2 separate regions of the Homo sapiens genome follow, and region 1 is linked to region 2. A link means that fine-mapping ties the variant in region 2 to the expression of a gene that starts in the linked region. Tissue or cell type: whole blood. Region 2 holds a variant in brackets; the other region holds the start of a gene. All regions are shown on one strand. Distances are between the middles of the regions.

Evidence for each region. PIP is the estimated chance that this variant, and not a neighbour inherited with it, causes the effect. A credible set is the group of variants that fine-mapping cannot tell apart.
Region 1: ZMPSTE24 starts here. The variant in region 2 is the best candidate, but not a certain one, in a credible set for the expression of ZMPSTE24 in whole blood (TOPMed, PIP 0.53).

The regions. Positions count from the first base shown.
Region 1 is chr1:40,254,029-40,262,074 of GRCh38, forward strand. ZMPSTE24 (zinc metallopeptidase STE24) reads left to right here and starts at 4,208. Exons shown (of 10, transcript NM_005857.5): 1 at 4,208-4,366; 2 at 6,811-6,957. The coding sequence starts at 4,244. RefSeq lists enhancers at 3,439-3,568, 3,799-4,068, 4,149-4,428, 4,519-4,618.
Region 2 is chr1:40,279,457-40,287,502 of GRCh38, forward strand. ZMPSTE24 (zinc metallopeptidase STE24) reads left to right here. Exons shown (of 10, transcript NM_005857.5): 7 at 1,887-2,071; 8 at 6,469-6,573. Among named protein-coding and RNA genes, the nearest start is that of ZMPSTE24, 25 kb to the left of the region's middle. The variant A/C (reference allele first, on the strand shown) is at 2,791.

The DNA.
Region 1 (8,046 bases), 25 kb before region 2:
TCCCAAAGTGCTGGAATTACAGCCGTGAGCCACCGCGCCCGGCCAAAAAAGAAGAGTTTTGAAGAGTAGACTGATGTCAGGTAATGAAGGACCTCGAAGGTCATACCATATATACCATATATAGGTTGGGCTTTATACTATCATAAATGGACCATTACAGGGTTTTTGTTTTTGTTCTTTTTTAACAGGGAGTAACACAGAATTAGTAGCCTATATGAGAGACAGAACGTATGAGCTAGAAAGTAGAATGAGCTAGATGCAAAAGAAATAACAGCTGCTCTTGTAAGGGTACCCAGGCTGGAGTGCAGTGGTGTGATCTCCGCTCACTGCAACCTCCGCCTTCCGGGTTCAAGCGATTCTCCTGCCTCAGCCTCCAGATTATACGCGTCCACCACCATGCCTGGTTTTTTGTCTTTTGTTTTTTTTTTTGTATTTTTAGTAGAGATGGGGTTTCGCCATGTTGGCCAGGCTGGTTTCAAACTCCTGGCCTCAAGTGATCCACCCACCTCGGCCTCCCAAAATGCTAGGATTACGGGCGTAAGCCACTGCGCCCAGCCAAGGGGGATCATTCTTTTCTTGAGGCCAGAGCACTTATGGCCAGAGTTTCAATTAAGGGACCTTGAATGCTTGGTAAGCAGAGAATCAAGGCAAGATAGGGAAAAAGCTTGAGAGCAACTCTATGATTTAGGTTAGACAGGGTAGATGGACTACCCTACAGCAATGTCTATCACTCTAGGGATAATAATCTTTATCTTTCAAATTCAGTCATTTTATTTATTTTTATAGAGATGAAGTCTCACTGTGTTGCCTAGGCTGGTCTCGAACTCCTGCACTCAAGCAATTATCCCACCTTGGCCTCCCAAAGAACTGAGATTACAGGTGTGAGCCAGCACACCCTGCCAGTCTTTCTCCTTTAGCAAAATCCTGCCAACAGCCTGTTTTGAGGTTCCCATTTTTAGACTCCACACAGGCCAGCCCTTCTATTAGTACTGTCTTTCTGAAAAGAGAAACAAGTGATTATTCACTTTCCATAATTCACTAGTTCTCCACTGCCACCACATTAGTCTGCACTACCATCTCTCACCTGGATTCTTTTTTCTTTTTTTCTGATATCCTTGGCAACTGCTAAATCACCTGGATTCTTGAAATGGCCTCCTAACTGCACTCCCTCCTTCCATTCCCCATTAAATTTATTCTCCACGTTGTAATGAGAAGGATTGTCTGCTCAAAACTCTGCAATGCTCTGCTCAAAATCCTGCAATGGCTTATTCTTTCATTCTAAGTAAAAGTCTTTTAACTAAAAGACTGCATGATGGCATGGATCTGCACTCCCCCTCTTCCTTACTCTTTCCACAGCCTCTTGCCATTCCTCAGATATGATAAGCATTGGCCAATCTCAGGGCCTTTGCACTTGCTCTTCACTCTGACTGGCAATTTCCTCAGATATCCACACAGCTTGTTCTCTTACTTTTTTTGGGGGACTCAAATGCCAGTTAATCTGAGAAGGCTTCCTTGACCAACTTATGTAAAGCAGCATCCCTCACACCAACATGCTGTATTGCCTTTTTGCTGCTTTTTCTTCATAGCACTTATCACCACTTCCACTTTTACTATTAAATATTTGCTTATTATTTATCAAACACTGCATCCACCCCAGCTAAGAATGTAAGCTCCAGGAGAGGGGCTTTGGTTCACTGCTATATCCCTGGCACCTGGAAATGCGTCTGGCATTTCGCAGACATTCAGTATTTATTGAATGAATGAATTCCAGTCAGTCTTGGCTTTTTGACACCTCGGCCTCCTACTCTCCTATCTCTTCAGACACATGGTGACAGATCAATGCTATGATGCCCCTCTCCCAAGCAGTAGCTAACCTTTATTGGGCACTCAGGGCCATCTACATTGCTAGGAGCTTTACATGAATTTTCTCATTTGATCCTAACAGTATGAGAAAGTAAGTACATACTATGTTATTCTCATTTTACTGATGAGGATCTGATGCACAGATTAAAGAACGTGCTAATACATGGTGCGGCCGTGGCTGGCAATCAAGCAGCTTGACTCTAAACCTGTGCCCTTAGCCACAAAGCTTGGGTGGTAGAAGCTCCTGTGAGGCTTTGGACTCACAGACAGCTGAAGTCAAGAGTGAAGAGGGCATAGCAATGATGGCCTGAGGGAGAGAAAATTTTGAAAAAGTGTTTACCCCTTATATATTTAAGTTGGTATCTAACTGGTTCCATCATAAATTCAAATAGTTGCAATGGATGTAAATTCTTGCAAATTGTAAATACTGACATTTTAAGATAAAACTGTTAAATCACTCTTTATAATGTATCCAAGAGAATCTACATAACAACTGAATAACCACCATTATGCATTAAAACATACACTAATGAGCTCTTCAACATTGTTCTTTTATTATCTCTAACATATTTAGATTGTACTCTAACAAAAAATGTTATTCAAATATAGTACTTTGATGTTTGAACAACCTTTTCTTGATCACTTCTTCGCAATAAAAATATGACATATGTAGTAAACCTTAAAAAATTTCGTGTAACTTTATGGCTCTACGCTGGAATTCTTCTGAAGTGAGTAATCATCACAATCATCTTTAGTATATAATGGATCAAAATGACACGATTGCAAATATTGATAACACACAGTTATAAAAGGTGAAATTCTATTGGGAACACATCTCTTAGTGAGATAGATGGGGCTGACCCACCAATTAATTCATTTATCTGGATGAATAGTTCCTACTGGTAGATTAACAGGGTTCATTTTCAATTCTGTTGTTTTCACAGATACAAGTGCTGAGAAATGGTTTTACATAAATAGGTGAGAATGCTAGTAGTTTTGTTGTAAGCATGTCAATCAATCGTTTGGTTTCTTTCCGAGTTGCATGCCAAAAACCAAATAGTGTTCCTTCATCAGCTGACAATTCATGGGCCACCATTAATTTTGTTGAAAGCAAAGAACTGGAAACCATCTGACTTGAAAAGAATTTGTTATCCTGTTATTAGAGTCATTCACTTTCTCTAGTGACTTTTAATTATACTAATTACTCTCAGAGGCATTTAGGCAGGGTTGAGAAATTCAAGATATTAATTTCAACACATCTTTAGCATCACAATATCACAGTAATTTAAATATATTTTAGTTGTAGCTATTTAGCTCACTTTATTGTAAATAATAATTATGCTAATTAGCAACGATAGTATGTTTAACCAATTAATCATCAGATTAACTTTCGGTCAGAATAATGGACTTCAATTTTTAAGTCAAAGCAATGTACAGGCGTCCCAGTCACCATATTTCACTTCTGAATTCCAAGAGAGAAATGGCGTTGCGCCTTACTGACGCAAATATGTACCTAGATAAAGTAAGACGCTTTCATTTCAGGTATGTCTAACCCACGCTATCCTTGCTTTGTTCCAGGGCACTCTCGCAGGGAAAACGCCGCCTCTGACTACACTTGGGGTGGTTAAGACGAGATCTTCAAATGAAAATTCTCAACGCTACCGTCCACTCTCTCATACGCTTGAATTCCGAACACCCCAATACTGGCCAAAAGACTCCATTTCTCATGCTTGGTCTTGCTTTTGAGGTAGCTCTAACTCAGAGGCACGATTTTTAGAGCCTGGGAAGTCGGCTGCTGTTCAGTCCTTCCTAGCCTCCTCAGGCGGGAGCCGCGGCCCACTCAGTCAGTTGCGGCCCACTCAGTCAGTTCCGGCCCCAGCCCCGACTACCTGTCGCCTTGTTGGGGGAAGGAAGGCAGATACCGCAGCCCAGTCAGGGTAAGCCGCTGACCCAGAGGATGGAACTGCGGCTCTGGAGATTAGAAAGAGGAGGACTTCGCCGCGTTCACTAGCCCAGGAGGAAAGCCAGAACCCTAGGCCGGAACCCAGCGTCAAGACGTGGGGGAAGAATGTTGATGCAACACAGCTCAGCCGGGCCCGGAACTCGGCGTTTGGGTCCCCGCCCTCTTTGGGCCGGAAGTGAGGAAGGTGGGGCTGGGGCTTTTCCTGTAGAAACTAGGAGGGACTAGGGAGAGTCTGCAAGGGGAAGAGTGTGTCTGTGACACTGCCAGCAGCGCGCAGAGGGAGGGATGGGGGCGGGTATCGGCGTAGGGGCCCTCGGAAAGAACGGATATTGCTGTGACACCGCGGGGACGCTCTGAAGGGACGAGTGTCGGTGTGGCACCGGTGCACGCTGAAGGAGCCGGCGGAACCGGGTGGCCATGGGGATGTGGGCATCGCTGGACGCTTTGTGGGAGATGCCGGCCGAGAAGCGTATCTTCGGGGCCGTGCTGCTCTTTTCCTGGACAGTGTATCTTTGGGAGACCTTCCTAGCACAGCGGCAGGTGAGCCTAGACAGGGTCCAACCTGACCCCCATACCCGGCCAGCCCTGGAGTAGCCTTGGCTTCGACCCTGAGACTCTTGATTGCTTCGGTCCCCGCGCCAGTCTCGTCTTTGTGGTCCCTGCTGAGTCTCGTAACTTGGCCCGATGGCGGACTGTGGCTTTGAGGAGGGTCTTGGTGCGTCAAGGAAGTTTTCTGTAACGTTATCATGGGACCCAATCCCTTTAGGGCCTGGAGGAAGGCTTGGGCTCTTGTGCCCTCCCTGCAGCTTCCTTGGGATCCTTGGGCCCAGACTTGGCCTCCTTTATCTTTGGAATAAGCCTTTAAAAGGATTTAGACACCCAACTTCCTCATGACATTTATGTAATCATGCCTAACCATAGGATTTTGCAGTCCTTCCAAGAACTTGCACTCTTGTTTCTCCTTAAAGTGCATATATTGTTTCTGCTTGAAAAAACAAACAAACAAACAAAAAACTTATCGGGCCCGGCGTGGTGTCTCATGCCTGTAATCCCAGCACTTTGGGAGGCCGAGGCGGGCGGATCACCTGGGGTCAGGAGTTCGAGACCAGCCTGACCAACGTGGCGAAAACCCGTCTCTACTAAAAATAGAAAAATTAGCCGGGTGTGGTGGCGCGCACCTGTAGTCCCAGCTACTTGGGAGGCTGAGGCAGGAGAATCATTTGAACCCAGTAGGCGGAGGTTGCAGTGAGCTGAGATTGTGCCACTGCACTCCAGCCTGGGCGACAAGAGTGAAACTCAATCTCAAAATAAATAAATAAATGAAATTAAATGAAATATATTTCTCGTTTTTCATAAAATCAACATTATTTTAGTTTAAATATTAAAATGGTAAAATAAAAAGTGAAAGTTAACAATTTACCTGAGATAACCATGGTTTAGAGATCTGAACTTTTATTTATTTATTTTTAATCTTTATTTATTTATTTAATTTTAGAGTCTAGCTCTGTCACCAGGCTGGAGTACAGTGGCGTTATCTCGGCTCACTGCAAGAAACTAGGAGGGACGAGGGAGAGTCTGCAAGGGGAAGAGTGTGTCTGTGACACTGCCAGCAGCGCGCAGAGGGAGGGATGTTCAAATGATTCTCCTGCCTCAGCATCCCGAGTAGCTAGGATTACAGGCACGTGCCACCACGCCCAGCTAATTTTAGTATTTTTAGTAGAGACGGGGTTTCACCATCTTGGCCAGGATAGAATATTTATTGTATTTAGAGACAGGGGCTCACTCTGCCACCCAGACTGGAGCACAGTAGCATCATCATAGCTCAAGGCAGCCTCGAACTCGTGGGCTCAAACGACCCCTCCACCTCCACCTCAGCCTTCTGAGTTGCTAGGACCACAGGTGCGGATCACTGTGCCTGGCTAATTGTTTGATTTTTTTGTAGAGATGTTGCCCGGGGTGGTCTGGAGTTCCTGGACTCAAGTCATCTTGCCGCCTCCACCTCCCAAAGGGCTGGGATTACAGGCATGAGCCACCGTGCTCGATCTCCCCTCAGCTTTTATTGGCACACAACAATATATAGGGAAAGCATGTTGTAGTGGCCCATTATTTTGTTTGGTATCCATTCTCTGTATTACATTTCCTGGACTGAAATTACCCTTACCTTTTATAATTTAGTATAATGAGATAGTTGATCTTTCTCCTTTTTTTTTTTTTTTTTTTTTTTTAAGGAGATAGATTCTCTGTCACCCAGGGTGTAGTGCTGTGGCACAATATGGGCTTACTGCAACCTCTGCCTCCCAGGCTCAAGTGATCCTCCCACCTCAGCCCCCCAAATAGCTGGGACCACAGGTGCATACCACCACACTCTGCTAATTTTTGTATTTTTTGTAGAGACGGGATTTCACCACATTGCTCAGGCCAGTCTTGAACTCCTGGGCTCAAGGAATCCTTCTGCCCCTGTCTTCCAAACTGCTGGGATTACAGGCGTGACCCACCGTGCCCGGCTGAAAATTGGTCTTTTCTCACAGACCTGATATGTTTCCATCTGGTGATCCTCAAGTTTCTGGCATTTAGGACCAAATTTAATGAGCAGCCTCAGTATCTGTTCATACTCACAGTTAGCATGTGTGCTTCTCCTTTGCATGAATTTGTTTTCCGTATTATAGGAGGTATGTAATACCCAGAATGAGTAGTACATGTAACAAAGTTGTGATGTTAACAGCTTTGGTTTACATATACAAACTGAAGTGTGATGACAACCCTGATTATAGTTTTACCAGTCAGGTCACCTCAGGTTCTCTTGTTCTGCTTTTATTTTCCTGCATCAGTCGTTTCATGTACTTGATCAAGTGCAATATTTGTGTAGGTATAAAGCAAATTCAACAGATATAAGTGGCAAGCTATAAACCATTCGATGTTTGATCATAAATGACTATTGTAATAAACAACTATTTCACTAAAGTGTTTTCTTTAAAATATTTCAGAGAAGGATATATAAAACAACAACTCATGTACCACCGGAGTTAGGACAGATCATGGATTCTGAAACATTTGAGAAATCTCGACTCTATCAACTGGATAAAAGCACTTTCAGCTTCTGGTCAGGACTCTATTCAGAGACTGAAGGCACTGTGAGTAATTTACTTCTTGGAGAGACAGTCTGTCTGGTTGTTTTCATTTTCATATTTTTGTAACACAAAAGAGGGTACCACACTTACAAGTCCCAGAATGCTTTCTTAACCTTTGTTATTGATAGTAACGGCTGTGGAGCAAAAAAGACAGAAACATAACTGCTTAGTCAGTTGAAAACTATAGAATATGGGAACTATTACCCTGAAGCCAGGTAGGAAAAAGATCCTCTTCCATTAGGATCCAGCTGAGATGTCATGTCTTCTAAGCAACCATTTGAAACTCCCTGCCTGACGAATGTGGATAGGGTAGCATTCTATCATTATTCCTGTCAGAGTACTTATCTCATTATGTTGAATTTGCCTGGATTTTTTTTTTTTTCTTCTGGCACAGTCTTGCTCTGTCACCCAGGCTGAAGTACAGTGGCGTGATCTTGGCTCACTGCAACCTCTGCTTCCTAGGCGCAAATGATCCTCCCACCTCAGCCTCCCGAGTAGTTGGGACTACAGTTGCATGCCACCATACCGTCTCAGAGTGCTGGGATTATAGGCATGAGCCACACTGTACCTGGCCTGATTTGACTGTTTAATTGGCAGACTGGTAGTTCCTTAAAGAAATAGTTAAGTCTTGTTCATCATTTTATACCTAGTGCCTGGCATGTAATCAGCATATAGTTCCTATTTATTGAATGAAATAATGTGGGGTTTTTTTGTTGCTTTTTTTGTTTTGTTTTGTTTTTGTTTTTGAGCAGTGTCTTGCTCTGTCGCCCAGGCTGGAGTGCAGTCGCACGATCTTGGCTCACTGCAATCTCCACCTCCCGGGTTCAAGCGATTCTCCTACCTTAGGCTCCTGAGTAGCTGGGACTACAGGCGCGTGCCACCACACCTGGCTAATTTTTTGTATTTTTAGTAGAGACGGGGTTTCACCATGTTAGCCAGGATGGTCTCGATCTCTTGACCTCGTGATCTGCCTGCCTTGGCCTCCCAAAGTACTGGGATTACAGTCATGAGCCACTGTGCCCTGCCACTTTTATTTTTATCATCCTGATCATCATCATCATCATTTCTCTAGAACTTTTAGATCTACTAGTA
Region 2 (8,046 bases):
AGAAATACGTTTGCTTATTTCTGTAGGGTAAAACTCTGTGCTTCGGGATTTGGCAAACTCTTGGAAAGCATTTTCTGCATCCAGCTAGTTGTGAAAACGTTTTCTCTTTAAAAAGTTGTTGAGATGCTTGAATAAGTGGTAGTCAGTTGGCAAGAGGTCAGGTGAATGTGGCAGATCAGGCAAAACTTCATAGCCCAATTTGTTCAACTTTTGAAGGATTGATTTTGCGATGTTCGGTTGGGTGTTGTCTTGGAGAAGAATTGGGCCCTTTCTGTTGCCCAGTGCTGGTTGCAGGCGTTGCAATTTTCTGTGCATCTCATCGATTTGCTGTGCATACTTCTCAGATGTAATGGTTTTGCCAGGATTCAGAAAGCTATAGTGGATCAGACTGGCAGCAGACCACCAAACAGTGACCATGACCTTTTTTTGGTGCAAGTTTGGCTTTGGGAAGTGCTTTGGAGCTTCTTCTGTGTCCACCCACTGAGCTGGTCATCGCCCGTTGTTCTATAAAATCCATGTTTCGTCTCACGTCACAGTCTGATAGAGAAATGGTTTGTTGTGTAAAATAAGAGAAGACGACACTTCAAAACAATGATTTTTTTTAATTTTTATTTTCGCTTAGCTCATGAAGCACCCACTTATCAGGCTTTTTCACCTTTCCAGTTTGCTTCAAATGCCAAACGACCGTAGAATGGTCGACATTGAGTTCTTCGGCAACTTCTTGTGTAGTTGTAAGGGGATCAGCTCCGATGATTGCTCTCCATTGGTCATTGTCAACTTCCGATGGCCTGCCACTACGCTCCTCATCTTCAAGGCTCTCATCTCCTTTGCAAACTTCTTGAACCACCACTGCGCTGTACGTTCGTTAGCAGTTCCTGGGCCAAATGCGTTGTTGATGTTGCGAGTTGTCTCTGCTGCTTTACGACCCATTTTGAACTCAAAGAAGAAAATTGCTTGAATTTGCTTTTTTTTTTTTCTTTCTTTGTGAGACAGAGTCTCCGTCTGTTGCCTAGGCTGGAGTGCAGTGGCGACATCTCTGCTCACTGCAACCTCCGTCTCCTGGGTTCAAGCAGTTCTCATGCCTCAGCCCCACGTGTAGCTGGGATGACAGGTGTGCGCCACCATGCCCGGCTAATTTTTTGTATTTTTGGTAGAGACAGGGTTTCACCATGTTGGCCAGGCTGGTCACGAACTCCTGACTTCAAGTGATCCGCCTGCCTCAGCCTCCCAAAGTGCTGGGATTACAGGCATGAGCCACTGCACCCAGTTGAATTTGCTTTTTGTCTAATATAATTTCCCTTATCTAAAATAAATATAAAATAAACAGCAAGTAATGTCATTAGCAAAAAACATAAAGTGAGAAATGTGCATTAAAATGATGTATAACATAACCATATTTATTTAAGAATGTATTCCAATATCAAACAGCAAATTTCAACAATGCAAAAACCGCAATTACTTTTGCACCAACCTAATACATGCACATTTTTTCTTGACGATAATGGAACCTGATATACGTGAAGTTTTGTATCCTTCACAATATATTGGTGAGCTTTTTCTTGTTAAAATTCTTTGGAAGTATAATTTTTTTCTGGCAGCTTAAAATTCCATTTCATAGTTTTACTATAATTGAATCATTTGTAACTGTTGGATGTTTAGGCTTTACTTATTTACTTACTGCTATAAAGCTGTGATGAGCACATTTATTGGCAAAAAACAGACACTCTCCACTGCTGGTGGTGAATTATGTTGATATGATTTTTCTTCACATATTAAATGATTTGAAAATGTTAATGTCCTTTCCAGTAATTCAATTTCTAGGAGTCTCTCCAAAGGACCCCAAACTTTTTAATTATATTCCATGCTTTGAACTGTCTTTTCCTTAGGATCTAAACGCTCTTCCCACAGCAATGCTTATTTTTATGGCTTCTTCAAGAACAAGCGAATAGTTTTGTTTGACACTCTACTAGAAGAGTACTCTGTACTAAACAAAGACATCCAGGAGGATTCTGGCATGGAACCCCGCAATGAGGAAGAAGGGAACAGTGAAGAAATAAAAGCTAAAGTTAAAGTGAGTTATTTTTTCCTAAGAGATTCTACCTTAGTTTTTATACACAGTTCCTGTGACAACTCAAAATAACATCAATTTCTAGGCAGTGAGTGTTGAATTCAGGGAGACTATCAGATGAAAACCATGGCTCCTTTATAGTTCTGGTATTTAGGAGAGATCACCACTATTATTACATGCTAACTACCTTGCAAGCTTTTATAGAATGTGGATATTAAAATTGGAAGCTCTTATAAGAAAATTCATATGATTATAAGCTATCTTTAAAACAGGAACTTGTGTGTATATATATATATGTGTGTGTATATATATATATAATTTCTTATGTGTTTATGATCAAAGAATTCCCACAAGCAAGATAAAGAGAAGATAAACATCTAATTTTTAGCTTTATTAAGACAGTAATTGTAGGCTTTGGCAATGGAGAGACTTGGATTTGAATCCTGGTTCTGTCATTTAGTAGCTTTGTATCCTTGGATACGTTGTGTAATTTAGTCTGTTTTATTTGTTTAACACCCATTTATGAAATGTATACTCTGTGCTGAGAGACTTTACTTGGCACTAGGTACACAAAAATAAAAAGGAATACCTTCCTCTTAAGCTTACAGTCTAAAGGGGAAATAGTCATGCAATCACAGTACAATACGTGAATTGCTACTGTCAAGCTTTAGATTCTAGATATAGTAACTGGAGCACAAGAAAAGACATTTCTCAAATCTGAC[A/C]TGAGAGTCTGAGAAAGCTGCTTCTGAATCCTTTTCGTGGATAAGATTGACTGATATTGATTAGCAGAATTTAAAGTATCAAGACTAAATGGGGGAGAGGGGACAATGATAAGAAACAATACAAACTGTCAGAAATGATCATCAGTATTTGTATGTGTGATGGAATGTGCCATTGCCTTTGGTGTCATACAGAGATGATTTTAGATGCCTGTTCACTCACTGTCTGTGTAACTCTGTGCAAGTAAGTTAAGCTTTCATTTATTTATGTATTTATTTATTTTGAGATGAGGTCTTGTTATGTTTTCCAGGCTGGTCGAACTGCTGGCCTCAAGTTACCCGCCTGCCTTGGCCTCCCAAAGTGCTGGGATTATAGGCGTGTGCCACCGCACCCCGCCAAGCTTTCTAAATCTTTGATTTCTTAACTGAAAGATGAGGCCAGTAGGGTTTCTCAAGCCCCACGCTATTTTTTTGAGCCAGATAATTTTTTTGTTGTGGGAGGTATCTTGTGCATCACAGGATGTTTAGCAGCATCCCTGGTCTCTCCCCACTAGGGGCCATTTCCCCTACAACCTCTACAAATTGTAACAACAAAAATGTCTCAGAATATTGCCAGATGTCCCCTAAAGGTAGCGGTGGGGCCGAGTCTCCCCTGGTTGAGAAATACTAGGCTAAAGATACCTACATTTTAGGGTTTTGAAGATTAAATGAAATAATATGTGTGAAATACCTTGTACTCTCTACCCAAATGTAGAGAGTACCAGAAAATGATTAGCATCTGAGCATCTGTTTTGACACTAAAAACAGGTTCTAGTAAAGTACCTAGCCTGTTATAAATACGTAGATGAAATAAAATTCTGTGAAGGGATTAGAAGACATCTTAAAGTCATCTTATAAATAGGAAAACTGAAGTCCAGAAAGAATAACCCAGTGATAACACTAGAGAATCATGCAAGTTTAGAAAGTTAATCTGCTTATGGTCAGGCACTGTGGCCCATACCTGTAATCCCAGCACTTTGGAAGGCCAAGACAGGCAGATAACTTGAGGCCAGGAGTTCGAGACCAGCCTGGCCAACATGACGAAACCCCTGTCTCTACAAAAAAATACAAAAATTAGTTGGGCATGATAGCGCACGCCTGTAATCCCAGTACTCAGGAGGCTGAGGCACAAGAGTTGCTTGAACCTGGGAGGTGGAGGTTACAGTGAACTGAGATCCTGCCTCTGCACTCCAGCCTGGGTGACAAAGTGAGACCCTGTCTTAAAAAAAAAAAAAAATTGCTGATCCTTTTGTTACTTTTTTTGTTTTTGTTTTTGTTTGCTTTTCTGGAAGTTTGTTAGATCTTTCTCTGTTTCAGTGTTCTAAAATTTCACATACCTTGATGGGGATCTGTTTTCATCTACCATGTTATATGCATCACACTGTTTTCATCCACTGTAATATATGCATTAGGCCCTTTTATTCTGGAAATCGAGGTCCTATGGTTGTAAGAAATTTTCTGAAATTATTTTGTTGATTTTTCTCCTCTCCATTTTTTAAATTCTGTGTTTTCAGGGCTCCTCTTACTCGAGTGCTGGATTTGTTATACTGAACTCTCCTATCTTTTTAACCCTCTTTTCCATTTTAAATATATCTCTTTCTGCTTTCTAGAATTCCCTCATCATCTTCCAATCCTTTATTGTATTGAACTTTCTTTCTTTTTTTTTTTTTTTTTGAGATGTAGTCTTGCCCTCTCGCCCAGGCTGGAGTGCAGTGGCGCGATCTCAGCTCATTGCAACCTCCTCCCGGGTTCAAGCAATTCTCCTGCCTCAGCCTCCTGAGTAGCTGGGATTACAGGTGTGCACCAGCATGCCCAGCTAATTTTTTTTTTTTTTTTTTTTTTGGTATCTTTAGTAGAGACGGGGTTTCACCATGTTGGCCAGGCTGGTCTCAAACTCCTGACCTCGTGATCCACCTGCCTCAGCCTCCCAGAGTGCTGGCATTACAGGCTTGAGTCACCATGCCTGGCCTTCAGCTTGGATTTCTAATAATTTTTTTATCTGAATTTTCCAATTTACAGCATTTCGTTACTTTTTCTTAGGTGCAATGTCTTAATTTTCTAAACTTTCTCTTTATATAATTTATTTCATGTTGCTTTTTTTGTGGATCAGATCTTCTGTGTTAACAGCTTACCTCATATATCTGGTAAATCCTTGGTTATTTGCTCCTTAGTAAGAGAATGGGACTAGGCCCCACACAGCGGCTCATGCCTGTAATCCCAGCACTTTGGGAGGCCAAGGCAGGTGGATCACCTGCAGTCAGGAGTTCGAGACCAGCCTGACTCACATGGTGAAACCCTGTCTCTACTAAAAATACAAAAATTAGCCGGGTGTGGTGGCATGCGCCTGTAATCCCAGCTACTCAGGAGGCTGAAGCACAAGAATCACTTGAACCCAGGAGGTGGAGGTTGCCGTGAGCCGAGATCGTGCCGTTGCACTCCAGCTTGGGCAACAAGAGTGAAACTCCATCTAAAATAAATAATAATAACTACTGTTAACATTTGTATATACTTTCAGTCTACTTTTTATATTTGTATATTTTTATATACACATTCACATTGTTTCATAATTAGAATCATACTATATATTTTTAGTTTGTGTCTTACTTTCTTCACCTAATCATTTTCCAATGTCAAAACATCATCCCTTTTTTTTTTTTTTTTGAGATGGAGTCTCACTTTTTCACCTAGGTTGGAGTACAGTGGCGTGATCTTGGCTCACTACAGACTACGCCTCCCAGTTTCAAGCAGTTCTCATGCCTCAGCCTCCTGAGTAGCTGGGATTACAGGCATGCACCACCATGCCTGGCTAATTTATTATTATTATTATTATTATTATTATTTTGAGATGGAGTCTTGCTCTGTCTCCTAGGCTGGAGTGCAATGGCGTGATCTCAGCTCACTGGTGATCTCAGCTCACTGCAGCCTCTGATTCTCCTGCCTCAGCCTCCAGAGCAGCTGCAATTACAGGCGCATACCACGATACCCTGCTAATTTTTTGTATTTTGGTAGAGACAGGGTTTCACCATGTTGGTCAGTCTGGTCTCGGTCTCCTGACCTCGTGATCCACCCACCTTGACCTCTCAAAGTGCTGGGATTGCAGGCATGAGCCACCATGCCCAGCAATATTTTGTATTTTTAGTAGAGATGGGATTTTGCTATGTTGGCCAGGCTAGTCTGGAACTCCTGGCTTCAAGTTATCTGTCTGCCTCGGTTTCCCAAAGTGTTGAGATTACAGGCGTGAGCCACTGCAATTGGCCCTAATCTTTGAAAACAAAATTTCTAATGATTTTGTAATATAATGTGACTGTCATATAACTTTATCATGATTTATTTAACTATTGTCCCATTATAAAGATTTCTATTTCTTCCAGTTTTTTTTTTCCTAATCTAAGTTAGTCTAGACTGTGAGCTTTATGTAGTCTGGGAATGTCCATCTTGTTCGTCATTCTATCTATCTTCAGTGCTTAACCCACTGTCTCATGTGGAGCAGTGGTTCAGGGAATGTTTTGTTAAGACAATCAACAGTTTTGAACAAAACTGATTATTTCTTTAAGTTAAAATCTATGAAGGGCTATTACTGGGTTAAAAGATAAAACTTTTTAAAGGTTCTCAATAATTTATTTTTGATTTTTTTTTATTCAGAATAAGAAACAAGGATGTAAAAATGAGGAGGTACTCGCTGTACTAGGCCATGAACTGGGGCACTGGAAGTTGGGACATACAGTCAAAAATATCATTATTAGCCAGGTAAGTGTGGAGTGACAATTCTTTTTTTATGGCATGATAGTCAAATTAGAACTATGGCAGGCATGAGAGGTCATATAAGAGAGGCCAAGGCAGACACCACAGCCAGGCTACCTGGTTTCCTATCACAGCTCCCTGACTTACTACCTGTGTGACCTCAGGCAAGTTCCTTAACCTCTGCCTCTGTCCCCTCATTGAATGATAATACCTCATAGGACTGGTTAAGAATTAAGTGAGTTAATACATGTAAAGAGTTTAGACTAGCACCTGGAACATGGTGAGTACTATATAAATTATTGTTATCACCACCATCATCACCTCCAGAGTAAGAACTTGGAAAATCAAAAGGAACAAGCCTAGATAAGTTGGACATTAAAATGCTTTTTAAAATTAAATTAAAAAAATTTTTTTTGAGACAGAGTCTCGCTCTGTCACCCAGACTGGAGTGCAGTGATGTGATCTCGGCTCACTGCAACCTCTGCCTCTCAGGTTCAAGCGATTCTCCTATCTCAGCCTCCTGAGTAGCTTGGACTACAGGCACCCACCACCATCCCTGGCTAATTTTTGTATTTTTAGTAGACACAGGGTATCACCATGTTGGCCAGGCTGGTCTCGAACTCCTGACCTCAGGTAATGCACCCACCTCGGCCTCCCAAAGTGCTGGGATTATAGGCGTGAACCACTGTGCCCACCCTAAAATGCTTTTTTTTTTTTTTTTGAGATGGAGTTTCACTCTTGTTGCCCAAGCTGGAGTGCAATGGCGTGATCTCGGCTCACTGCAGCCTCTGCCTCCCGGGTTCAAGCAATTCCCCTGCCTCAGCCTCCTGAGTAGCTGGGATTACAGGCACACGCCACCACACTTGACTAATTTTTTTTTGTATTTTTAGTAGAGACGGGGTTTCTCAATGTTGGCCAGGCTGGTCTCGAACTCCTGACCTCAGTTGATCCGCCTGCCTCAGCCTCCCAAATTGCTGGGATTACAGGCATGAGCCACCACTCCCGGCCTCTAGAATGCTTTTTAAAAAACATTTTTTTCTTTTTCTTTTCTTTTTTTTTTTGAAATGGGGTCTCTCTCTGTCGTCCAGGCTAGAATGCAGTGGCGTGATCTCAACTCACTGCAACCTGCACCTCCCAGGCTCAAGCCATCCTCCAGCCTCTACCTCCCTAGTAGCTGAGACCACAGGTGCATGCCACCGCGCCCGGCTAATTTTTTTGTATTTTTGGTAGAGACCGGTTTTCACTATGTTGTCCAGGCTGGTCTTGAACTCCTAAGCTCAAGCGATCCACTCGCCTTGGCCTCCCAAAGTGCTGGGATTACAGGCATAAGCCACCGTGCCCGGTCTAAAACATTTTTTTCATTTAAAAGTTATTGCCGGCGTGGTGGCTCATGCTTGTAATCCCGGCACTTTGGGAAGTTGAGATGGTGGATCACTTGAGGTCAGGAGATCGAGACCAGCCTGGCCAACATGGTGAAGC